Regions from separate parts of the Homo sapiens genome. Here all the other regions are linked to region 1. Evidence: fine-mapped expression QTL. A gene starts in region 1. Each other region holds a variant in brackets. All regions are shown on one strand. Distances are from middle to middle.

The links. PIP is the estimated chance that this variant, and not a neighbour inherited with it, causes the effect.
Region 2: its variant is fine-mapped to the expression of SSPN in whole blood (TOPMed, PIP above 0.99).
Region 3: its variant is fine-mapped to the expression of SSPN in whole blood (INTERVAL, PIP above 0.99).

What each region holds. Positions count from the first base shown.
Region 1 is chr12:26,190,539-26,198,943 of GRCh38, reverse strand. SSPN (sarcospan) reads right to left here and starts at 3,371. Exons shown (of 3, transcript NM_005086.5): 1 at 2,993-3,371. The coding sequence starts at 3,271.
Region 2 is chr12:26,117,183-26,125,662 of GRCh38, reverse strand. BHLHE41 (basic helix-loop-helix family member e41) reads left to right here and starts at 626. Exons shown (of 5, transcript NM_030762.3): 1 at 626-945; 2 at 1,081-1,144; 3 at 1,484-1,591; 4 at 1,922-2,033; 5 at 2,495-5,633. The coding sequence starts at 884. The coding sequence ends at 3,597. It also overlaps a transcript of SSPN not described here. The variant C/A (reference allele first, on the strand shown) is at 3,801.
Region 3 is chr12:26,097,204-26,105,683 of GRCh38, reverse strand. No RefSeq gene overlaps it. Among named protein-coding and RNA genes, the nearest start is that of BHLHE41, 24 kb to the left of the region's middle. The variant G/A (reference allele first, on the strand shown) is at 4,911.

The DNA.
Region 1 (8,405 bases):
TCAGCCTCAGCCCCAGGGATGGGCCTGGATTGCTTCGGTTTGGTGGGGCTCCTGAACAGGGAAAACTGATATAACCCGGCAGGATATACCAGCCCTGAATCACTGCATATCCCAAAGGAAAAATGACCTTGGGGAGGCCACTCTCCTCCAAGTTCATTTTTATAAACCTCCAGAAAGATTCAGAAAGTACTGGACCAATCAAATACCACTGTGATTGCTAAAGAGTAACTTGGCTGAGAACAGAGAAAGGTGAGACGGCAAAACTGATATTTTCTTCAGGGTTCAAACTAGTCTTGGAAATGTAGCGAGTCAAAAATGATAGTTTTGCAAGTCTAGAGATGAAATAAAGCCACCTTTCCTCTGAAGAGTGACACTGCCTGTGACTGCTTCCCAAGCAGCTAATAAGTAAAGCTAACTCATTGAATCATGCCATTCGTTGGCACTATTTTAAGTGCTTTACATGTATTAATTTATTTCATCCTCAGGGCAACCCGAAAAGGTAGGAATTATTATCATTCTGATTTTGTTAGTAAAGAAATGGAAACCTAGAGAAGTTAAGTAACTTGTCCAAAGTTATTCGGCACACAAGTTAGCATACAAGTTATTTGGCACACAAGTTAGGTGTGGCGGTGCACGCCTGTAATTCCAGCTACTTAGGAGGCTGAGGCACGAGAACGTCTTGAACCTGGGAGGGGGAGGTTGCAGTGAACCAAAATCGTGCCACTGCATTCTAGCCTGGGCGACAGAGCAAGTCTCTGTCTCCAAAAACCCCCCCCCAAAACTCAAAGTTATTCAGCACACAGTGGCTGAGCTGGTGCTCAACACCAGGTGTGGTGTGTACACATCTGCACTTTGCCATCTGCCTCGTTATCTTTTCCCTTCCCTGAAAGCTTGGAAGAGTGCCCTGTGACCAACCACAGACAGAGTAGTGAGGACAAGCAGAGCATGGTGTCTGTGTGAGACAGTGACACATGCCCAAATTCTGGCCCTGCTAGGATGAGAGTTGTTCCTGGCCTGGCTCCTCAGAGACCCTCCTCACTAGTCTCAGGACATCTCTACTAGCTGCTCTCCTCTACATAGATTCTCAGTTGAAAGAAAATCTAAGATGACAGATTTCATCAGGGCTATGTACTGAGAGCAAACTTCAAATGAATCCTAGATGATAAAAAAGAAAACCAGAAAGAGCAGAGACCTGGCTGTATATAATGCCCTTTGTGCAACACCCAGGGAGCTTCCAGGGCAATTAGGAACATCATCTCCCACAGGAGCTTTAGTTCATAAAATTTCTGAGTTGCATGGTTTTTATGTTCATGCCTTAAACCCTAAAATAAGTTTTTTCTCCATCTAATTTGCCTCTTTGGTGCTGAGCTTTTGAAGCTGCAATAAAGGAAGGATGGGGAACACATTTGCAAATGATATTTAAAAACACTGAATGAAAGAGCTTCATTCTTTGTTTGTTTTAATTCCCCTGGCATTAAAGGACAGACATATTTTCCCCCTGGGTATGTGGATCGTCATTGAGGTGCCTGAAATACCCAGTATATCTTACTGAAAAGCTATTTTTAAAATCACTTGATTTAGAAAACTCCAATCATGGTAATTTCATGGGAATTCTTAGTACAAAAATTAAAGTTTTAAATTACTATGCAAAAATTGTGTATTCAAATAATCTTAATTAGGAAATACCTCCATCGATGCATATATATCAGGTCTCTCTAATGTCTGTCCCTGATACAAAATTATTTTGAGGGACGTTTTGTGAGTTACAGTTCCTGTGGTCAGTAATAGCAGTAAGGATGCAATATGAGACAAGGAGTCAAAAATGTCATTTCTAGTCTCTCTTGATTCGACCACATTCAATCTCTGGGCTTGAGAATGTCATCTAACTTCTCTTAGCCTATTTCCTCACATCCAAAAGGAATAACAGTTCCCACTTCAAAGTGTTGTTTCGTGGCTCAAATGAAATAATGCATGTGAAAGAGTTTAATATGCTACAAGACACTGTAATATAACATAATATTAAAGTTACAAACCAAATGTGGTGGCAGTGTGGTTCAATGAGGAAAACGCAGATATAGTCTAGCATAAAGAGGAATCAGCATGGCTGAATGCTTTACCCACTCATGACCCTGGGTGAGTCTGGCCTGGGTTCCCTCATTTGAGAAGTGAGAATGATTAAAACGATCCCATCAGGACGATGTGGGGATTAGAAATAATATGTGTCAGGCCTCTAGCAGGGCGAGCACACAGTAGGTATTCAGTAAGTGGCACCCGTTTTACATTAAAGAATTCATTTAATCAAGCCAAGTATGCTACATGTTTCAACACTCACAACAGCTGAGTACTGTTCAACTTAGAACAGTACATCCATCGGTGGAGTCCCAAATATACTTCTGCCATGGCCAGCGCCCTGGGTTTATCCCACTTTAGACTCCAGTGGATTAAGGCTGTGCTTGCTGTATTCGCATTTCCTGCCTTAGCCCATCATTTCAGGAAACTTACTAATGGAGCCTCAGTTTAAAACATAAAATGAATGCTACTCAATGTGGCAACTCCAAGTACAGGCTTTCTCCTCTCCTGCTTTCACTAGATGAACTTAATTCACTTTTTGCCACTTGTTTAAGGACAGGGGTGGGGTCTGGGTAACAGGATAAGGAAAAAGCCCGAATGAATCCGCTGTTGTTATTGAGGCTGTTCAGTCTGACCAAAATAAGCAGCTTTTGAAATGAACTCCCCAGCTCCAGAGCGTCAGAGTCAGGCCCCGTGGAGGCGCTGGGAGCCGCGAGCAGGAGAGGGGCAGGAGCCCTATCGCGTCCAGCCCTGCCCCGCCCGGGAAAACCCAGTGCCCCACGCATCAGTCACCGAGCAGAGCGCGAGTTAGAAGAGTGAACCCGGGGAAGGGCACATGCAGCTGGGTTAGTCTCAACTCGACCATGCGACTTCGCATTCCTGTTTGGCAAACGCGCTTAGGCAAAACAGACTTGATGCTTACAATGATCCCAGCCCAAAATGGAGTGTCCCTGACTAGCAGGGAGGAGCTGATGCTCGCCATGAGGAAGCCCACCACGGTCACGGCGATGCCCAGGGCCAGCTGCAGCAGGGCGAGCAGCAGCGGGAACCGGCAGCCGCAGCAGGTCCGGGGCTCCTCCTCCCCGCACTCCTTGGGGGCCCCCGTGCCCTTCTTCGGCTCCATGTCGTCGGGCCCAGCGGCGTCCGCGGCCGGCGGGCCCCCCTGCCTCTGCTGGCCGCGTGGCTGCTTGTTCTTGCCCATGGCGCTGCGAGGCTGGGTGGGTGGGTGGGTGCGTGTGCGGCGCCCTGGGCCCTGGAGCGCGGCGCACGGCTGGCTCGGCCTGCCCTGGTATTCGAATTATGGAGGCTGAACAAATATGGAAAACATTTGGAGCCGACTCACCGAGCCTCCAAAGGCCACGGGGAGCCCGCAGCAGAGGGGGGATTCGAGGGGGGTCGCCAACTGCCAACGCGCCGGGACGCAGCGCCTGCCGGGCCCCGGGCAGGATTTGCAGGTCGCCCGCGGAAACCGGCGCGGGTCCCTTGGCCGCCTGAACCTCTGCACTTCAGACAGGCTGCGAGTGCGCGCGTGTGCGAGTGCGGGGCGTCTGTTTTCCTCACTCAAAACTCCAGGATTGTTTTGGTTTTGCTTTCTGTGAAGTGCAATGCAAGGTGATGAATGTTGAAATCGTTTGAGCTTAATTAATACACAGTTTAATCCAAAATAGGCACTGCTGGGCTCTAAGCTGCGAAGTCATTTCCAGAAGTTAAGTCGTTGTTACTTTCCTACAGAGGCACAGGCTCTTTTCTTCCTACTTTCTGTAATCCAGCTGACAAATGAATAAAGGCATTTTTCGCATTTAGGTGTTTTTGAATCTTTCTAAAGATATTGGACTAATTGTGAACTCTCTTTCACATATGTTATTAATTATTATTATTATTTTCCAAACAGGGGCTCACTGTGTTGCCCAGGCTGGAGTGCATTGTCACCATCCTAGCTCACTGCAGCCTCAGACTCCTGGACTCAACAGCTTCTCTCTCCTCAGTCTCCAAGTGGCTGGGACTACAGGCAATCACCACCACATCTGGCTAATTTTTTAAAATTTTTTTCATAGAGATGGGATCTCATTATGTTGTCCAAACTGGTCTTGAACTCCTGGCTTCAAGGGATCCTGCTGCTTCAGCTTCCCAAAGTGCTGGAATTACAGGCGTGAGCCACCATGCACCCGGCCTCTCACGTGTATTTGTTTTTAAAAGCTCTGTTGGCTCACGCCTGTAATCCCAACACTTTGGGAGGCCGAGGTGGGCGGATCACAAGGTCAGGAGTTCAAGACTAGCCTGGCCAACATGGTGAAACCCCGTCTCCACTAAAACTACAAAAATTAGACAGGCGTGGTGGCACGCACCTGTAGTCTCAGCTACTCGGGAGGCTGAGGCAGGAGAATCGCTTGAACCTGGGAGGCAGAGGTTGTAGTGAGCCGTGATCATGGCACTGCACTCCAGCCTGGGCGACAGAGCAAGACTCCTAGTTAGTCTTCACTCATCTCCACAACAGTGCTTAGGGGGATTGGATTGACCATCTTAGAGATAGACGCTTTTACTCAGTCAATATTTAAGAGTTATTTTTAAAGCACCTACAATGTGCTAGGATATAAAGATGTTCAAAATAGACTTGGTCCTGGCCCAGAGTCACAGAAGAAATCAATAAAACTGATTATTCTTATTCCCGCATACCTCTACTCAGTAGCACTTAGAGCAAATTTCAGCGAAACCACTAAAAAATGATCCCATCACTTTGGGGGTATTTATATCTCCTTTGGTATGGTCATTGTAACATTCAGAAAGCTATATTCAAAAATAAGTGATGTTGCCAAGATGTTAGGATAAAGGCTACTCCTAGCTTGTTTGCTATTGGAAAATTTAAAGAAAATCCAATTCCCTGCTGTTTGCTTTAGAATTAGAAACTAATCATCATCAGCTCTTTTTGTAAACTGCCAAGTCCCCACAAAAGTAACTTTGAAGACAAAAAGTATGTACTTCACCCTTACTTATTTTATGAACTTAGGTGTTCTCCTTATGCCTTCCATCTGGACCAGTGAGAAAAATAATGGTTCAGGGAACAAATACATTTGCTTAGAAAACAGAATCTAAACCACACATCCCAGTTCCATGCAGAGGCAGTAGAAATAGCACTCACTCTTACCAGAAAAACAGAGTGGCTGAGGCAAGTTTATGGTCAGCTTTGGGGCCATCACACCACAAGGGCTTTCTATTGTGAACAGACAAATAAAAACTGGCGTTATACCAGGACACCCACCTGACTTGGGCCTGACTGAGAAGAACCCAAATGACAAAACAACAAAATGCTTGGTTTTCCTATGGAAATATGGTAAATATTTATAGAAAGTCAATTGACTACCTGGAATCAAGTATGTATTGTTATTAACAATATAGCTACCTATTACTGAGTATTCTGTAACAAACACATGACAGGTGCTTTACATATTTTATTGTCACCCCTTATAACCACCTTATAATTATAGTTTCCACTTTTAAAGATGAAAAAATTTGAGTATCAGAATTATTAAGTAATTGGATTAAAGTCACTAGCCTACTTATGAATGGGGGTAAGTGGAACCAGATGTGAACTCCAAAGCCAATGGTCTAAAGGATTAACTGCTTTATTAATTACTTCCTGTATGTATATTGCCTATAGGCAAACAAGTGGCTAGACTGTTTAAATTGTGATTTTAAACAATTTAATTATCATGGGTAGCATAGTATCTATAATACAGTGAATTACAAACTTAGACCTAGAGATGAGTACTTTACAAAAATATCTTGATTCATCACCATAGTATATATTTAATAGTCAGTGGAGACCATTATTCCTATTAGTACTAGTTTATAACTAGATACAAGTTCTATTTGCTGACCATACTGCCAAATTGTCATGCAATTAAAAGTGAAACATTTTTAGCCTTTTCCTCAAAACCTTAAATTATATGTAAGTTTAAATAGTCAAACAAGATAGTAGGATATTGCTATACATTTGTCTTCTGAGTTTCAGACTAGTGGCTTACAGTTGTAAAACAGTTGTACATATATACTTTTTAAAAAAGCTTACTTTTGATTGCCTCACTGAGACACATTACAAATGAAAGCAATGTAAATGAACAACATCCCAGACGCACTGAAATTCTTCTAGTCTGATTACAACTGCAGACTACAATTTTCAGCCTTTGGTGGTCTAGGGAAACTCACACCTGCTCAGCTTCCCAACAGCATGGTTGAATCTGTGTTTGAGGAGGCCTGGTCTTTGGTAATAACATAAGATGATAGTGACGAGGATGTCATTTTCACTTAATTGATATTTGAAAGTAGAAACAAAGAAAAGTTACTGTCAAATAGTGATAGAGAGTAATCAAGGCTAAAATAGATAAGACTGTCATTAAGGATACAACAAAGAAAACTCTTCCTTTTACATGTCCTTTCCACTGAGAAAAAATCATCACGTCTAGCTCATCATAGAGTTTAACAGAAATGAACTGGGTTTTTCAGTATTCATAAATTATGATGTCACTATTTTATAGGTTAAGCAATAACCTCTTCAGATATTTATATTACCGGGAAAAAAGGCGCAGTAGAAACAAAATGTTTTTGGATACTCTTGGCTGCTTCCATAATTCAAAACTGACAAAGATTGTAAATTAGAAATTGCAGGACAGTAGTTAATATATGGTTTAGATTATTTTGATCCTCTTGGGGGAGAAAACAAAATCAAGCCAGTATCTCTATCTTTGCAGACTATCTCAAACTTAACATTATTTTGAAGTATTTATGCATCAGAAGTTCAGAACGGGGAAGATGATAACTCTTTAAAACTAGTGTGATTAACAAAATGTCTTAGGAAACCCAACTAGAAATAATCTTTAAACCAACATATTCTCAAACACATGATCTTACATTCCCCAAGAACAAAAAAGGATTTCAGAAAAAAATTATTACATTTCCAAGGTCTATATCAAGTCTTTTTCATATGTAACTAAATCTATCTGAAATGTTCAATTAGATTTGATTTAAAGAAGTATCAAATACTCTGCAGAAAACAATTGGGAATTCATTTGTGATATGCAGGACCACTGCCCCCATATGCCTTGCTGGCCGCCATACCTAAAATGACTCTAGGGATATTGCTGACCTCTGTGTGTGTATTTGTGTGTGTGTGTGTGTGTGTGTGTGTGTGTGTGTGTGTGTAGAACAAATTAAAGCAACTCCTATTTTTTTTATTTTCTTTATTCCTATGTCATTAATTCTAAATGTGCCTTTGGGCTTAATTTTTTTCTCAGCAGAATTGACCCATTTATAATTTTTGCTTGCAAGTTTGTATTTTCAAGTTAAATATCATATGGACAATGCAATCTTTATGGTCAACAAAGGGCTTATGACTTTCTCATTCTCTCTCTCTCTCTTTCTTCCCTGGAGATGGGGTCTCACTATGTTGCACAGGCTGGACTCAAACCTGTGCTCAAACAAACCTCCCAGCTCAGCTTCCTGAGCAGCTAGGACTATAGGCACATGCCACCATACCTGGCTTAACTTTTTCATTCTCTGGAGGGCTATAGAGGTGATAAATTTCAATCATTTAATCATGCATTTCACCTATTTTTAAGGTGCTTTTTATAATACCAAATTTTTCTACATGTAATTTTGATTTTTCCACTGCATATGATACTGTAGAAATAACTAAATTTATTTTAATTGAGAAATACAGGAGAAGAATGGATAAACAAATTGTGGCATATCCATACAGTGGAATACCACTTGCTAATAAGAAAAGGGGTGAACTATTGATGCAGGCAATGACTTGGATAAATCTCATTAACAGTGTGCTGAGTGAAAGAAACCAGACACAAAATAATACATACTGCATAATTCCATTTGTATAAAAGTTTTAGAAGGCAAAATGAATCTATGGTAATTTAAAAAGTGATTGAGGAGTTGGGATGAGAGAATTGTCTCGAAAGGAGTAAGAGGTGACTTTCTGGGTGATGGAAGTAAGTCTTCTGTATCTTTGGTGATCATATGGGTCTTAGTTGTCAAAAGTCATTGAACAACACTTATGATCTGTGCATGTTATTGTATACAATGACATCTCAATTTTTAAAAGTGTAATAAAAAGAGAAATACAGGGAGTCACTGGATGTCCCTCAGTAATTAATAATAGAACAAGTAGGTTTTTTATAAATTCATCTCACCAAACTCTCCTAATGCCTCTACTGCCATTCTAGATCCTCTGTTTTAATTATCTATTGCTACAATAACAAATCACCCCAACATTCAGTGATTTGAAACAGTAATTATTATTTCATGGTTTCTGTGGGTCAAATATTCAA
Region 2 (8,480 bases), 73 kb after region 1:
GACGCCGTGTCACCGAAAGACACTTGGATTGCGACATTCGGACCCAGTGACAACGTTTTCATGTATCTTAAATCCTTCAAGGAGCGGATTGCAAGTTGCTTCTTCTCGAGGCAACCTCTCCACCCAGCGCCAAGGAGTCCCTCCAGGCCACTGATCAGTGAGCAAACAAGTCTCCAAAATTTCCTTTGGGACTCAAGTTTACCCACCGCGAATTCTCTTTTCACTTCCTTTCTATGGTTCAAACCAACAGCACAATCGGTGGAAAAGCAAAAAGCCACGTTCACATTCCTGCACCGTAACAACGGACGAACCCAGGGAGTCGCATTTTGGAGCCAAGGAAGCTCAGGCTGCCCCGCACCCCTGCACCCCCACTCCCCCCTCCTCCTGCCGACTGCATCGCCTTTGGGAAGATGAATAGCTTGGCCGAAGTTGTTTTTCCTTTCCGGTGGCCCTGATCAGGTGTCCCCGCCCCCTCCTGCCGTTCGCCTTCTCTCGCCGCCTTCTCCCGACGCCCCCGCCCGGCCCGGCCCCTCCTCCCCCGCCCCCCTCCGGGCTGGACCGCGGATGGTACGTTCCGCACGTGAGCTGGGTGCTGGTCTGGCCGGCGACGCGCGTGCCCTGTGGCCAAACACTGCCTGGAGTGAGAGCAAACTACCAGCGCAGTGGGGCCGGCGCGAGTGTGCGTGTGTGTGCGTGTGTGTGTGCGAGCGCGGTGGAGGGGGGGGACCAACTGCTTCACACTTTCAACACTGCACTGAAGAGGGAGAGCGAGAGAGAGACTGGAGACGCACAGATCCCCCCAAGGTCTCCCAAGCCTACCGTCCCACAGATTATTGTACAGAGCCCCAAAAATCGAAACAGAGGAAACGAACAGCAGTTGAACATGGACGAAGGAATTCCTCATTTGCAAGAGAGACAGTTACTGGAACATAGAGATTTTATAGGGTAAGGTGCACGCACCCTTGCGAATATCTGTCTAGGCTTTGGTTTGATTTTTTTCTTCTCCAGAAAGTGGTATGGAGCTGGCGAGGGCAGAGCCCCTCCCCGAATGGGTGCCTGATGCTGATTTCTGTTTTGCAGACTGGACTATTCCTCTTTGTATATGTGTAAACCCAAAAGGAGCATGAAACGAGACGACACCAAGGTAAGTGTAAGTTCCCGATATTCCTCATAACCTGCATGGGTAGTTAATTAGAGCCATTGATTTCACAGTGAAGCTCTGCCCGCAAATATATTCCAGCCCCTGAGCTTCCCCAACTGTGAATTTTAAGTGGCTTGCTGGGTACTCTCAGGGGGATATTAAACATCATACCTGAATTTAAATTGCATTGCAGAACAGTCCAGAGGAAAGAGGTTTCTTGGGTGTAGTTTATCACATAGTATGTTTTATGGTGGGGGGGCGGGGGGGGCAGACGAGGGTAATATCCAATAAGTGAATGTTTCGCTTACTGTTTTCTCTTTTCCATGACTCTCATATATTAAGGATACCTACAAATTACCGCACAGATTAATAGAAAAGAAAAGAAGAGACCGAATTAATGAATGCATTGCTCAGCTGAAAGATTTACTGCCTGAACATCTGAAATTGACAGTAAGATGCACATTTTCATTCTTTGCTGCTCTCCAAGGGCGTGTTAATAGTCTGGTGCGACTCCCAGAAAATATAAGAATAAATGTAAATATAAGTTCCTGACTTAAAACTTGTGCTATACCGTACAGAGTTTCCCGCAAACTGGAGTAGGTGCTCCCAGCTGAAGGCAAGAAATCATTTATAACCTGTCTTGTGGAAAGCTCAAGAAGTAAAAGAACAGTACTTCTTTCAAAGTGTTTGCTTAAATTGCTGTGCTGAATGGACAGCCAATTAAGCCAAATGTGTGTTTTTAAGTAACCAAGTGCCCGTTTCTTTTTTGCACCACTGCAGACTCTGGGACATCTGGAGAAAGCTGTAGTCTTGGAATTAACTTTGAAACACTTAAAAGCTTTAACCGCCTTAACCGAGCAACAGCATCAGAAGATAATTGCTTTACAGAATGGTAAGTCAGTTCAGGGAGGCCAGCCTACCCTGATGAAGCGGGGCAGCCCACAGGGGAGCAGTGTCAGGACTCCCTCACCCGCACCCCATCTCTTTCCGTGGGCTCATGGGTTCCCTCTCATTTGTTAAATTGCTTATACTTTCCCTTCATTGGAACGAGCCCATTTCCCGAAGCATCCTAGAGGCTTTCAGCAGAACTCGGAGGAATCAGGATTTAAAGTGGCGGTTGCACCCGCTCCACTTTGGTTTTCAGCTGGGAGGAGAGCGCCCTCTCCCCGCTCCGCACCTCCGCCACCCCGCTTCTCTCGTCAACTGGTGGATTATATCACTTGAATACTGGGGAAAAACCGAGATCACTTTAGTCGATGCAGGGCCCACGTGATAAGCAGATGTTTTAACGTGGGTATGTTTCTTCTTGCCTCCACTCCTCCGTCCCCCACCCCCATCCCTTCCTCATCCTAGGGGAGCGATCTCTGAAATCGCCCATTCAGTCCGACTTGGATGCGTTCCACTCGGGATTTCAAACATGCGCCAAAGAAGTCTTGCAATACCTCTCCCGGTTTGAGAGCTGGACACCCAGGGAGCCGCGGTGTGTCCAGCTGATCAACCACTTGCACGCCGTGGCCACCCAGTTCTTGCCCACCCCGCAGCTGTTGACTCAACAGGTCCCTCTGAGCAAAGGCACCGGCGCTCCCTCGGCCGCCGGGTCCGCGGCCGCCCCCTGCCTGGAGCGCGCGGGGCAGAAGCTGGAGCCCCTCGCCTACTGCGTGCCCGTCATCCAGCGGACTCAGCCCAGCGCCGAGCTCGCCGCCGAGAACGACACGGACACCGACAGCGGCTACGGCGGCGAAGCCGAGGCCCGGCCGGACCGCGAGAAAGGCAAAGGCGCGGGGGCGAGCCGCGTCACCATCAAGCAGGAGCCTCCCGGGGAGGACTCGCCGGCGCCCAAGAGGATGAAGCTGGATTCCCGCGGCGGCGGCAGCGGCGGCGGCCCGGGGGGCGGCGCGGCGGCGGCGGCAGCCGCGCTTCTGGGGCCCGACCCTGCCGCCGCGGCCGCGCTGCTGAGACCCGACGCCGCCCTGCTCAGCTCGCTGGTGGCGTTCGGCGGAGGCGGAGGCGCGCCCTTCCCGCAGCCCGCGGCCGCCGCGGCCCCCTTCTGCCTGCCCTTCTGCTTCCTCTCGCCTTCTGCAGCTGCCGCCTACGTGCAGCCCTTCCTGGACAAGAGCGGCCTGGAGAAGTATCTGTACCCGGCGGCGGCTGCCGCCCCGTTCCCGCTGCTATACCCCGGCATCCCCGCCCCGGCGGCAGCCGCGGCAGCCGCCGCCGCCGCTGCCGCCGCCGCCGCCGCGTTCCCCTGCCTGTCCTCGGTGTTGTCGCCCCCTCCCGAGAAGGCGGGCGCCGCCGCCGCGACCCTCCTGCCGCACGAGGTGGCGCCCCTTGGGGCGCCGCACCCCCAGCACCCGCACGGCCGCACCCACCTGCCCTTCGCCGGGCCCCGCGAGCCGGGGAACCCGGAGAGCTCTGCTCAGGAAGATCCCTCGCAGCCAGGAAAGGAAGCTCCCTGAATCCTTGCGTCCCGAAGGACGGAGGTTCAAGCAGAGTGAGAAGTTAAAATACCCTTAAGGAGGTTCAAGCAGAGTGAGAAGTTAAAATACCCTTAAGGTCTTTAAGGGAGGAAGTGTAATAGATGCACGACAGGCATAAACAAGAACAACAAAACAGGTGTTATGTGTACATTCGGAGTTCCTGTTTTGCTCATCCCGCACCA[C/A]CCCACCCTCCACACACTAACATCCCTTTCTTCCCCCCACCAGCTGTAAAAGATCCTATGCGAAAGACACTGGCTCTTTTTTTTAATCCCCCAAATAAATTTTGCCCCCTTTTAGGCCATGTTCCATTATCTCTTAAAATTGGAACCTAATTCGAGAGGAAGTAAGAAGGGTCTGTTCTGTGGCTGAGCTAGGTGAACCCCGGGGTAGGGGAAAGATGTTAACACCTTTGACGTCTTTGGAGTTGACATGGAACAGCAGGTAGTTGTTATGTAGAGCTAGTTCTCAAAGCTGCCCTGCCTGTTTTAGGAGGCGTTCCACAAACAGATTGAGGCTCTTTTAGAATTGAATTTACTCTTCAGTATTTTCTAATGTTCAGCTTTCTAAAAGGCATATATTTTTCAAAGAAGTGAGGATGCAGTTTCTCACGTTGCAACCTATTCTGAAGTGGTTTAAATGGTATCTCTTAGTAACTTGCACTCGTTAAAGAAACACGGAGCTGGGCCATCGTCAGAACTAAGTCAGGGAAGGAGATGGATGAGAAGGCCAGAATCATTCCTAGTACATTTGCTAACACTTTATTGAGAAATTGACCATGAATTAATGGACTCATCTTAATTTCTTCTAAGTCCATATATAGATAGATATCTATCTGTACAGATTTCTATTTATCCATAGATAGGTATCTATACATACACATCTCAAGTGCATCTATTCCCACTCTCATTAATCCATCATGTTCCTAAATTTTTGTAATCTTACTGTAAAAAAAAGTGCACTGAACTTCAAAACAAAACAAAAAACAACAACAACAAAAAACAAGTCCAAACTGATATATCCTATATTCTGTTAAAATTCAAAAGTGAACGAAAGCATTTAACTGGCCAGTTTTGATTGCAAATGCTGTAAAGATATAGAATGAAGTCCTGTGAGGCCTTCCTATCTCCAAGTCTATGTATTTTCTGGAGACCAAACCAGATACCAGATAATCACAAAGAAAGCTTTTTTAATAAGGCTTAAACCAAGACCTTGTCTAGATATTTTTAGTTTGTTGCCAAGGTAGCACTGTGAGAAATCTCACTTGGATGTTATGTAAGGGGTGAGACACAACAGTCTGACTATGAGTGAGGAAAATATCTGGGTCTTTTCGTCAGTTTGGTGCATTTGCTGCTGCTGTTGCTACTGTTTGCCTCAAACGCTGTGTTTAAACAACGTTAAACTCTTAGCCTACAAGGTGGCTCTTATGTACATAGTTGTTAATACATCCAATTAATGATGTCTGACATGCTATTTTTGTAGGGAGAAAATATGTGCTAATGATATTTTGAGTTAAAATATCTTTTGGGGAGGATTTGCTGAAAAGTTGCACTTTTGTTACAATGCTTATGCTTGGTACAAGCTTATGCTGTCTTAAATTATTTTAAAAAAATAAATACTGTCTGTGAGAAACCAGCTGGTTTAGAAAAGTTTAGTATGTGACGATAAACTAGAAATTACCTTTATATTCTAGTATTTTCAGCACTCCATAAATTCTATTACCTAAATATTGCCACACTATTTTGTGATTTAAAAATTCTTACTAAGGAATAAAAACTTTAATATACGATATGATATTGTCTAATAATTAAAAAAGACATAATGGATGCTCAATTAGTTTTAAGATATCTATAACTATAGGGATACAAATCACTACAGTTCTCAGATTTACAGCTTTTTTTTGTCATTGGCTTGATGTCACACATTTCCAATCTCTTGCAAGCCTCCAGGCTCTGGCTTTGTCTACCTGCTCGTTCCCAATGTATCTTAATGAAAAGTGCAAAAGAAAAACCTACCAATTAACTTGTGTGGTTTGTTTATGTTAGACCCAATTTTCTATTGTTTTAATGATTGACAAGTTTTTCAGTTTTCGTCTGTGACATCACATAGCCTCTCTAGTATGGTCAGGTGTTCCTCTTTCACTGGGTCTTGTATAAATAGATGATCACAAAGGGGTGCTTAATATGAGAGTGTTTTGGCTTCTTTTTATAAAATAATTCTGTCATGGGACTTTATCATGGAATTCCAGGATCAGAAATAATTTCTAGACTTTTCTCAAATTTCCATTCAAATCTGTGATATGATACAAACAGTGAAGGATTGTCAGCTTTTAGTTTCAGGAATGTTCTTCACAAACCCCTTGATTTTTGAAAATGTTTAAATGAGAGTCAGATTGTATAAGATGTAGAAAAAGTGCTCCCTCTGCTGACTTTATGGCAACTGAACTGCAAGTCATAACAGTATGAAGCCAGAAGGAGCCACAGCTCATCCAGTCCCCTGCATTTCGTGATAGGAAAAAAAGAAAGGAAGCCCAGAGATATTAAGTATCTTCCCAAGGTCACAGAGCTACCTAGAGTCAGCACTAGCACTAGTGGCCAGCTCTATTATATCCCTCAGTCACTCAACTACTTCCCATTGCAGTATCTTGGACCAAGTAAGCTGAACTTGATTGAGCAGCCCCCATGAAGCTTCGTAACAAACCATAGAACAAAGGAAATTGAAATCAACACTAGAAAACTATGTAGGATTTTTCAGCATTGTTAATTTATTGAACTTTAGAAAAATTATCTGAATCAGAATAATGGGAAAAACAGCATTTCAAATATTTTGAGCTATATTTTGATGCCACTACTGTAGTAATATTAGTTTCATAACCAAAAAGGATTAAAAGTGAATCAGAGGATAATACAGTGTTTTTAGCATGTGTATAATTTTGGTATAATGAGATAAAAAAATCTTCAGAGTTGGGCCAGATTTTACAAGTCAGTTATTTAGTCCAAGTGCCCATATGGTAACATGGTAAGATAAAGTTAGAACAGAAATGCAAAAATAATATTGTCTATATTGTATCTGAAAATCTGAAAAAACTTTATTTTAGTCATTGATTTATTTTAATGAATTAAAAGGCTGAAGTCATAATTCACTAAAGAGGCTTCTATACTTGTAGTGGTGAAATTTCAGCTAAAATGATTTTCCAACTTCAGGCAAATATGAATCTTGAGTCAATGTTTTTATGAGTATAGTATTATACTCATAAAAATTTAATTTTACATACATATATTTTACATAATCTTTAAAAAGATTAATTTTATATAACACATTTCTTAGCAAACTTTATATTGAATTGAAAAAAAATGGCCCTTCCCTCCCCTCCAAAGAGCTAACCTTAAGCACGTTTTCAAGGCACTAGAAACAACACTTTAATAGCTATGTAAAATTTGGAGTTTTAGTTCCTATCATTGTGAAACTATTTTTCATTTAGTTCCCTGTTTCTGGCCATCCAGGCGATGACTTTGGTTATTGCCCACCACCCGAGATTTGTTCAAAAGTTATGTAAAAGGAGGCTCAGCCTACTCCTTTCTATGTCACAGGTCAATTCTTAACCTTTCCATGGAAAGTGATTGCCAGTGGAGCCTCTGGAGAGACATGGCTGGGCAAACACACGAAGGACTTTTACATTAGCTAGAAATGAACAGAGCTCTCATGAATGACTTAAGACCATTATATTGCCAAAAGCTGGCTGTACTGTTGTGATCATGGTATTTTACTTCAGGTAGCAACCTGATATTTTTCATTAAACAAAAATTCTTAACCTATTGGACCCTCAGCTCAATATATTTAGACCCACCCATTGTTCTCACTGTTATTTTAAACAAGTTCAAGATGGATTTACAGTGCATGCTAAAGTCCCATGGAAGTTCTAGTTTTTCATAGAAGAATTTAAGTAAGGGATTGACGTGGGAAATTATCACATATTTTGTGTGATTAAGATGGGATTTATACTAGAAAACATGCGCAGCATGTACTTTAAAAATATGCTATTCTAGGAGTTGTACGTTTGTCTTAAAATCGGGTTTCTTATGCTCGTTCAGAGATTCCATATTGAAAACTCCAAACAAATATAAAACCACCTTTTTTAAATGTTGATATTTTAAAATTCTAAATTCAGTGATGCCTAGTTTGTCCGACAGGAGGGACAGTCAGTGGTTTAGAAAACTAAAACTTCTATGTTCAAATGCCAGTGCTGTTTTTCATTTTTGAATTTTTAGTGGAAAGCATACTAAAATGTATTACACATATCCTCTAAATGTCTTAACCTGGACATACTTAACCTTTCTCAATAATTCAGGGTCATCATTGTAAACATCATTTTTGCACTATGCATGACATCTGGGAGTAATTGCACCTGCACCAAATTTTTTTTTGAGTTCTACCTGCTTTTTATAGGGTTTTTCAGTCTCTTTACGCACAGCTAGCCTGTCAGCTGTCACTTCTTGAAGCCTCAGAGTGCTTCCTCCATCTCTTATCTAATTTGCTACCTCTGACTTACTGTGGGCTGGGAAACCATTTAAACACTACCACGCCCATTTGAAATGTGCTAAAATTAGAGTAAATAGGCTCTGACAGAGGACCTGAGGGTTTGTTCTACAAGTAAGTTGTGTGAATTTGTAGAATCTGTGACCTTTTTTATTTCCTTTAACTTCCAGATAGATTCTCAGCTTTTTTATTTCCTTTAACTTCCAGATTCTCAGCGATGCTTCTTATGCAAATGCCTTCAAGATTACTTATGCAAATGCCTTCAAATACGTTATATATTTTGCCATCATTTTATTACATAAAAATAAAAGCAACTTGCTAATGGTTTT
Region 3 (8,480 bases), 93 kb after region 1:
GTCAGGAGTTCGAGACCAGCCTGGCCAACGTCGTGAAACCCCATCTTTACTAAAAATACAAAAATTAGCTGGGCGTGATGGTGAGCACCTGTAATCCCAGCTACTCAGGAGGCTGAGGCAGGAGAATCACTTGAACCCGGGAGGCAGAGGTTGCAGTGAGCCAAGATCGCGCCACTTCACTCCATCCTGGGTGACAGAACAAGACTCTGTCTCAAAAAACAAAAAAAAATTATAGCCCAAATTAAAAACTGAGTGTCCTTAATATACCTTTCCTTAGATACCCTTTAAAACTGGGTACATATTAGCCATTTCATTTTCTTTCTACCTACATAAGACGCATCCATCTCTAGAGAAATGAGGATATGTGTTTATGAATTTTATTTCAATTTTAGAGTCCAGAGAAATTTATGACATTTTTATAATACAGTGATTTTTTTAAATGTGTAGTCCCATTTTAATACCAATGTCAGTGTTACTAAATAAATGCCATTCATAACATTTAAAGAAGGAAGAAGAACTCCACATATCTGGCTTTGAAGGTGGAGGCCGGGGGCCAGCACTAAGGAATGCAGGAAGTCTCCAGAAGCCAGGAGCAGCCTTCAGCTGACAGCAAGGAAACAGGGACCTCCGTCCTACAAGGGAGCCTCCCCTAGAGCCCTTAGAAGGGAACACAGACTGTCCTCTTCGATTTTAGAATCATCTTGATTTTAGTTTGATATGACTCACTTTGACTCTCTGACCTACAGAATTATAAGAAAATGAATCTGTATTGTCTTATGCCACATGAAGTGTATATGGGAATTCACCCTATATATACTAAGCCAGTAAGTTGTGATTGTTATGGCTGCAATAAAAAATGAATACACTAGGCCTCACTGAGATAGTAGGAAAGTCTTGAAGGAGGTGAGAAAGGGGGCCATGAGGAAATCAGGGGGAAGAGTGTGCCAGGCACAGAGAACAGCAAGTGCAAAGGCCCTTGCTAGGAGCATGCACAGCACAACCAAGGGACAGTCAGGAGGCCAGTGTGCCTATGATAGAGTGAGCAAGGAATAGATTTTAGGAGAAGACATCAGCATAGGAGGATTTGCCTTCTCTGTTGTGAAATCGGACTGATTGCACTTCCTACCCAAGCTGGGAGGAGGAGAACCACCTTGCCCTTTATCTGATTGAGAAATTAGGTGCTCAGCCCTAAATCCTGTCCCCCACTGCCCAACTCCGTTCACTCGAATGGTAGTTTTGAAGCATCCTCATTTGTTTGGCTACTTCACCAATAAGGCCAACTCTTATATAGTTGGCCCTACCAGCCATCTCCAAATCACCCATTTCCAGGACATGGTTATCAGACCTGATGAGGTGGCTTGCTGTGGCTCTGCCCACTTTGAAGGTCAGCATGGCCATACTCCTTTATAAACAGTAATCTTTCTTATACCTGCCTCTCGGAGATTAGGATTCCTTTCCTGAAAGTTGGTTACAAGAGCCCCGATGTGCTGGTTTTTCTCATAGGATTTAGCATCAACCTGCAAAACATATGGAATTTTCAATATTCAACTCTTCACATTGTGGTTTTAGGCGTTTTATCTTTCTGGCTTTGGAGAATAGATATTTTGGCAGATGTAAAGGTGATTGGCTGTCTCTACATCTGTCAAGCTCCAAAGCACTGTTACCAAGCATCAGAGACCATATTTCAGGGAATATTTTCCTTCTATTTTAACTGAGTCTGTGATAAACTGGATGTGATTTGCCTTAATATTGACAGTTTCTGCCCAAAGCACATGTGATTGGTTTGGGTTGAATGACCGCCACCCTTTCTCTCATGATGGGAGAATATGTGCTCTCCAGCTTGTACAGAGAACAAAGTAATTGAACCAGAATAGGATGAAAAGAATGTCTCCTTATTTCTATTTTTGTATTCTCCTGAAAGTCCCCAAGTTGAATACTTCTGATGTATTTACATTTATTGTTCCTGTTCTTGAAATTGATGTAGGGTGGGCATTGGGTCCTGGCTAATTATTAATTTAAGTACCCCCAGTACCTACCACCGTGTCTAGCATCCAGTAAATATTTTTAAAATTAATTCACTCAACCATCCCCTCATAAAATGAACAGCCTTTCTACATTTTTTATGTCTCTAATATTGGAAATTGGTAACATTTGGTGGCATTGACCATTTATTATGTACCCGATAAAAGCATTCCATTATCCTTTAATTCATTGGTTGAAAATAGTTTGGAGGAAGTGTTAGCTCATGAGAATAATATACTCTTAATTTATTAAACATTTATAGTAAATTAACAGAAAAACTTAAACAAAATTTAAAAGTGAGCCCAAAGGGATGAATTGATGAAACATTTTATCATGTTTTATAACTGAAAATACAGTCTCCTAGATAGATACATTCAGTACCCTGTGGGTGAGGAGATGTGGTAAAATGGGTGTGAAGTAACTGATCTCAGTAACACTCCTCTTTCTTTAGTAACTGAGGCCTCCGTGTGACTGCAGACATCAACCGAGTGCTCATAGCTTCCTCGTGATGCCTGGCCAGTGTTATGATACTAGGCAACCCAGTGTCTCAGGACCAACAGCGGAATAAACTTTGGCAGAGATCTATACGAGTTATTTCCTTTCTTACACTGCACAATTTCCTAGACATTCAGCCACCCTCTCATCATCAGACCTGCTGAAATCCATAATAAGCAACAGGCTATTAGATAAAAATAGTGGAATAAAACTGCAAATAACATTCTCCCCAAAATGCAGAGATGTCTGTCCTCCGGGAATATTTTATTCAGCTCTGGCGGCTATAGCGAAATACCATAAACTGGATGGCTTAAACAACGAATACTTATTTTTCACAGTTCCAGAGTTTGGAAGTCCAAAATGAGAGTGTCAGCTGGCTGGGGTTCTTCGTGAAGGCCCTCTTCCAGTTGCAGACAGCTGACTTCTCACTGTATCCTCATATGGCAATAAGAGGGTTCACTAGCTCTCTGGGGCTTCTTATCAGAGCACGAATCCCATTCATGAGGGTTCTACCCTTATGACCTTATTAGCTCCCAAAGGACCCACGTCCAAATACCATCACATTGGGGATTTGATTTCAATATATGAATTTGGGGGTAGGGGGCACAAACATTCAGTCTATAACATAAAGGATGGAAGATTCTCATCCTGTGATCTCCTCTTTGGACCAGTAGTATTTGCTTATTAAACCTGGACGGATTTCCAAGTGCAGCTAAGTACACTTGACATGTTAATTTAAGGATATTGCTTAAATCCAATTGTGCTATCTCCAATATTCATCTTCAACAGAGAAGACATATCTAGGTTATACAAATCCTACATGTCATCTAGAGAAAGGTAATGTATCCAGAATGTACAAATTGCAAGTTATCATCAGATAATTGTCTGGGCAGACAAAGCAAAGGCAAAAAACAGCTAAGGTCCTGACCACAGAACTCTGCTCTCTTAAGCTTTGTGCTCAGCATAACTCACCCCATTCTGCTTGAGTGTTCCTCTTGTAAATTCTGCTTAGATTCAAAAGACCAGGGGTTCAAATCCTGGCTCTACCACCTAATTGCATAAACATGGGAAAACCACTTATACATCTTTTTGTCTGTTTCCTTATCTATAGAATGGGGATGGTGATAAGATAAGGTCCACCTTACAGCATGCTGGGGTTCTGAGCTCGTTGAATGTTAAAGTCCTAAACAAACATTAGTTGTAATTGGTTCCTAGAGGGCAATCTCATCGACAGCATGAAATCAGAAATGAGACAGCTTCGCTCATGAGTCTCACTCATCAGCTTTGTGACATTAAGCAACTTACTTCTCAAAATTTATGTTTCGTCATCTGTAAAGAGGATGATTTTAATGAGAGTAGCATCTCTGTAGGACAGTTACAAGCATTAAATGACATAATCTAAGACCTCCTGCATGTCTTTTTGGGGGAGTTCAGTGGTCATGCAATACACTATGGAGAGACTAGAAGGAAGGCAGACAGGTGCAGTTTCCATTTGGCATCATGGGTCAGCATGCCCCAGTGGCATCAGGGTTCTTTCTTTGGCTGCAGAGCTGCATTCCCATGCTATGCTAATAACCTCTGCAAAACACAGTCGACCTGATCTTCCTGCTCTTTCCAGATAATGTGACCAACCTTTAGCCACCACTTGCTCACTTACCCGATAGGTTGTAAAACCAGTTTTTTTGGCATCTTGCCACCTCATCAGTGCTCACCTGCATATTTTTTTTCTGGGTTAGAGGATCATGAGTTCTTGGGTTCGCTGTGGTCAGAGTCAATAGCTGTCTATCAGGAAGTTGCTTTATTAATGAGATAATTCAGAATTTCTTCCGGAACTTCAATCTGTTGCTGGGTAACAACCTGTACCTAAAATCTACACAGATCTTCAATTATCGCTTAGTTAGGAACATGCTAGGATTGCCCGGCTGTCAAACACTCTTAATTGCACTAGGACCGGTTAGTATCTCATGCATTTGGAGCACAAAAGCACTGAGCAAAGCATATGACTGTCTGGTCAAGTCAAGCCCGCCGTTCCAACATTAGGCAATTGTTTCCATGAACAGTTTTCACGCTTCTGATATGGAAAAGAGATATGATCATGGCTATTATTTGCTTTGTGTTTCTAATATGCTGAGCAGTGTTTTAAGCATATAACAACTGCTAATTCATTTAATTTATGAGGTAAATGTTATCATATAAAGAAACCTATGTGCTCAGAGGTTAAGCAACATGCTCCTAGTCATACAGCCACCCTTCACTAGGCTATTTTGCCTACTGTTATTTCAAAAGCTGGGGACAGGGGAAATAACATTAATTTGTTTCTCATAATGGCAGAAGACCGTTTCTTTCTGTTACTAAATTTACTATGAAGAATTTCATTGCAAATAGTTATGCAA[G/A]AGACCTTTTACAGCTATACTAATTTAACAGTGATGTAATCTTGATTCTAAAAAATATATATTTGGGTCAGAAAGAGTCTCACCATTTCCTTTATTGTATTTTCCCCCAATATGAAAATTGTTTTGTAAAGTTTTAGCATTTTTTCCCTTTCATATCTACTCTGATTGGCTTTCGGGACCAATACGAGTTACAAATTAGATGCTTCCAAAATATCTAGTTGAACATTTCACTCAGTCAATTGTTTTGTTGCCTAATGTAATATCCATTTGTTCCCCCAGAGAGAGATTTTCTTCAGTGTAGCAATGATTTTGGTGCTTTTCAGACACGATCAATTTAATAGCAAAATGCCTTACACCTCACAGGTACATAGTAATACTTAACAAATGAAATAATGAATGAGTTAATATGAACTTTTGACAATCCTATATTTATATCCACATCACATAGGAATGCTCAGCTTACAACTGTCTTTTAAAGAACATTATTAATCAGAATAAAACTTACTTCATGGGCCTAGCTACTAATAATTTCTTATTACTGACCATTTCCTTCTTTTAAGTGGTAGGATGGATAGGAAAGAGGGAGGAATAGTGAGGAATTCACAAATGAAAGAGAGACCCTTAGAATCTTGGTTCTCAAGCTTATGAGAACTAAAGGTCCCCTTTTATAACAAATATTTTCTTATGCTCCTTTACTAGCTTAAAATGAAATTTATAGAAAATATAGTCTGTAATGCACATTAATTTTAAAAAATATAACTATCATATATCAATAATATTATTAAAATAATGTAATGCCTTAACTTTGATATAAAGGAGAAATAAAAGAAATTATATATATAATTATATATAATAATATATAAATATATATATATTTAAGTATGGAAAGGCACAGATGGTAGCTATGCTACAAAATGTAATGAAGTAGTCAGGTGCTTATACTGTTAATATATTGATGCCAATATATTACCTTCAAGTTGACTCTTCTTTTCATATTTGACATTTTGAATAAAGAATAAAAAGTATATTTAAATGTATACTTAGAACCACCTTGAATCAAGAGCTACAAACACAGATTGTTATCAGTTTATTCTATTGGTGACTCAGTTCCAGAAGTTAAGATGCTCCTGTGAAATGAACTTCAAAGATGGTTAACAAACCTGGGTAAAGTTCTGAGTTAAATAAAGCATAATCTCTCCTCAACTCAACTGGTAGTTGTATTCTTGGAACACTCAATTTTATTAAAATGATGCTAGGGCTGTGAATGGTGGCCTGCATCTGTAATTCCAGCACTTTGGGAGGCTGAGGTGGGAGATTGCTTAAGCCCAGGAGATCAAGGCTGCAGTGTGCCATGATCTTGCCACTGCACTCCAGCCTGGGCATGAGATCTTGTCTCTAAAAACAAAAAGAGAGGAAAAAAAACCATGCTAAAAACAATTTATGCTTATATGTAAAACAGATAGGGCATTAAACATTGTGAGAGATAGGACAATAATTTTTCATTGTCAAGGGTTGACCTATGCTCTGTAATATGTTTAACATCCCTGGCTCTCTCACGCATATTTTTAAAAATTAACATTATTTTAATTGACAAATGATAATTTTATACATTTATGGGGTACAATGTGATGTTTTGATATAGGTATACAATGTGGAATGATTAAAACAGGCTAATTAACATATCAATTACCTCACTTACCATTTTTTGTTGGGAGATATTCTAAATTTATTCTCTTAGCTACTTTGAAATATACGTTATTATTAACCATATCACCCTGATATGCAATAGATCTCGAAAGATTATTACTTCTGTCTAACTGAAACTTTGTGCCCTTTGACCAACATCTCCCCATACCCTCTCACTCCTTCTCCCTTAGCCTTTGGTAGCCCCCACTTTACTTGTATGAGTTCGACTTTTTTAGATTCTACATGTCAGTGAGATCATGTGGTATTTGCCTTTCTGTGCCTGGCTTATCTCACTTAGTATAATGTCCTCCATGTTCATTCATGTTGTCACAAATGGCAGAATTTCCTTCTTTTTTAAGGCTGAATAGTATTTCCCTGTGTCTATGTACCACGTTTCTTTATCCACTCATCTGTCGATGAACGCTTAGGTTGCTTCCGTAGTTTGGCATTCACATTCTTGTGAATAATGCTGCAGTGAACATGGGAATGCAGATATCTCTTTTGCATGTTGATTTCAACACTTTTGAATACATACCCAGAGGTGGGATTGCTTGATCATATGGTAGTTCTATTTTTAGTTTTATGAGGACCCCCATACCATTTTCCATAATGGCTGTACTAATTTACATTCTCACTAACAGTGTAAAGGGTTCCCTTTTCTCCACATCCTTGCTAACATGTGTTATCTTTTGTATGTGATGTAGTATCTCATTGTGGCTTTAATTTGCATTTTCCTAATGATGAGTGCTGTTGAGCATTTTTTTCATGAACTTATTGGCCATTTGTGTGTCATCTTTTGAGAAATGTCTGTTCAGGTTCTTGGCCCATTGGTAAACTTCTTTGTTTGTTTTCTTGCTACCGTTTTTCCACCATCTTAAAAGGAAGTAGTTCCTGTAATCACTGAGACCACCAAAAACACCCCTGCAAAATTTCAAATACTATCTAGTAGATGGAACTGTCTCAATTGAGAACCACCACCCTGAAGGTTTATAGTAAGCTGGGATAAAAAGAACTTCTTTATGAAATATTGCCAGAGAATTTGGAATTCACAATAGTGGTTTCTTAGCATGTTATTTAATGGGACTTTCAATCTACATTTTCATTAAATTTGTATTTGGAAAATTGTGTTGGAACAAATGAATGCTATATTGCAAACTATATTTGAGCCAACTCAGTTGTAGGACAATGCTATTCTTATTTTAGCACAAACTGAATAACTCTCCACATCTTTGCAAATATACCCATCTTCACACATTCTGGTTTTTTTTTTTTTAAATAAAGTCTGGACTTCTGGATTCTTGTTCATAGTTAGGACAACCTGATTCTTTAATAATTCAAGCCAAGCTGAGTGAGTGTGGATTTGTAAAGACTGAGTAATCCCTTGACTCAGCAGTTTCCCTCTAAAATCTGTACTCTTCATGAATTACAAAATTAACACTTGGTATCACTCGATAGCTTAGTGTTCTCAGTGCAATGAGTTGTTCCTTTTGATCAAATCCATAGTAGATAAAAATTACCAATTACTACTAGGCTGTACAGAGAAACTAAGTTTAAAAAGATCTTTCAGACCATGTTACTTTGTCACTTCAGAAATGAGCCATGGAGTGTGAGCAGATAAAATATGTTCAATTGCTATTTCTTTATTGGCAAAGAAACACCTTAAATCTTCAGAACGAGCGGCCCATTCTCTTTCAGAAACACTGCAGCAAAGCAAATTAATATAAAGATAAAAAGAAAACTTCTTTAGTAATGTGTTTTCCTTCATTTTTTCAGGATCTCTTCAAGTAAGGATTCACCTAAGGCGCAGCTTTGGAGCCCTGGAAGGTGGCTGGACGGTAGCTGCTGCCCCCTAGTGTAAGACTCGTTGTTACTGCAGACATTGGA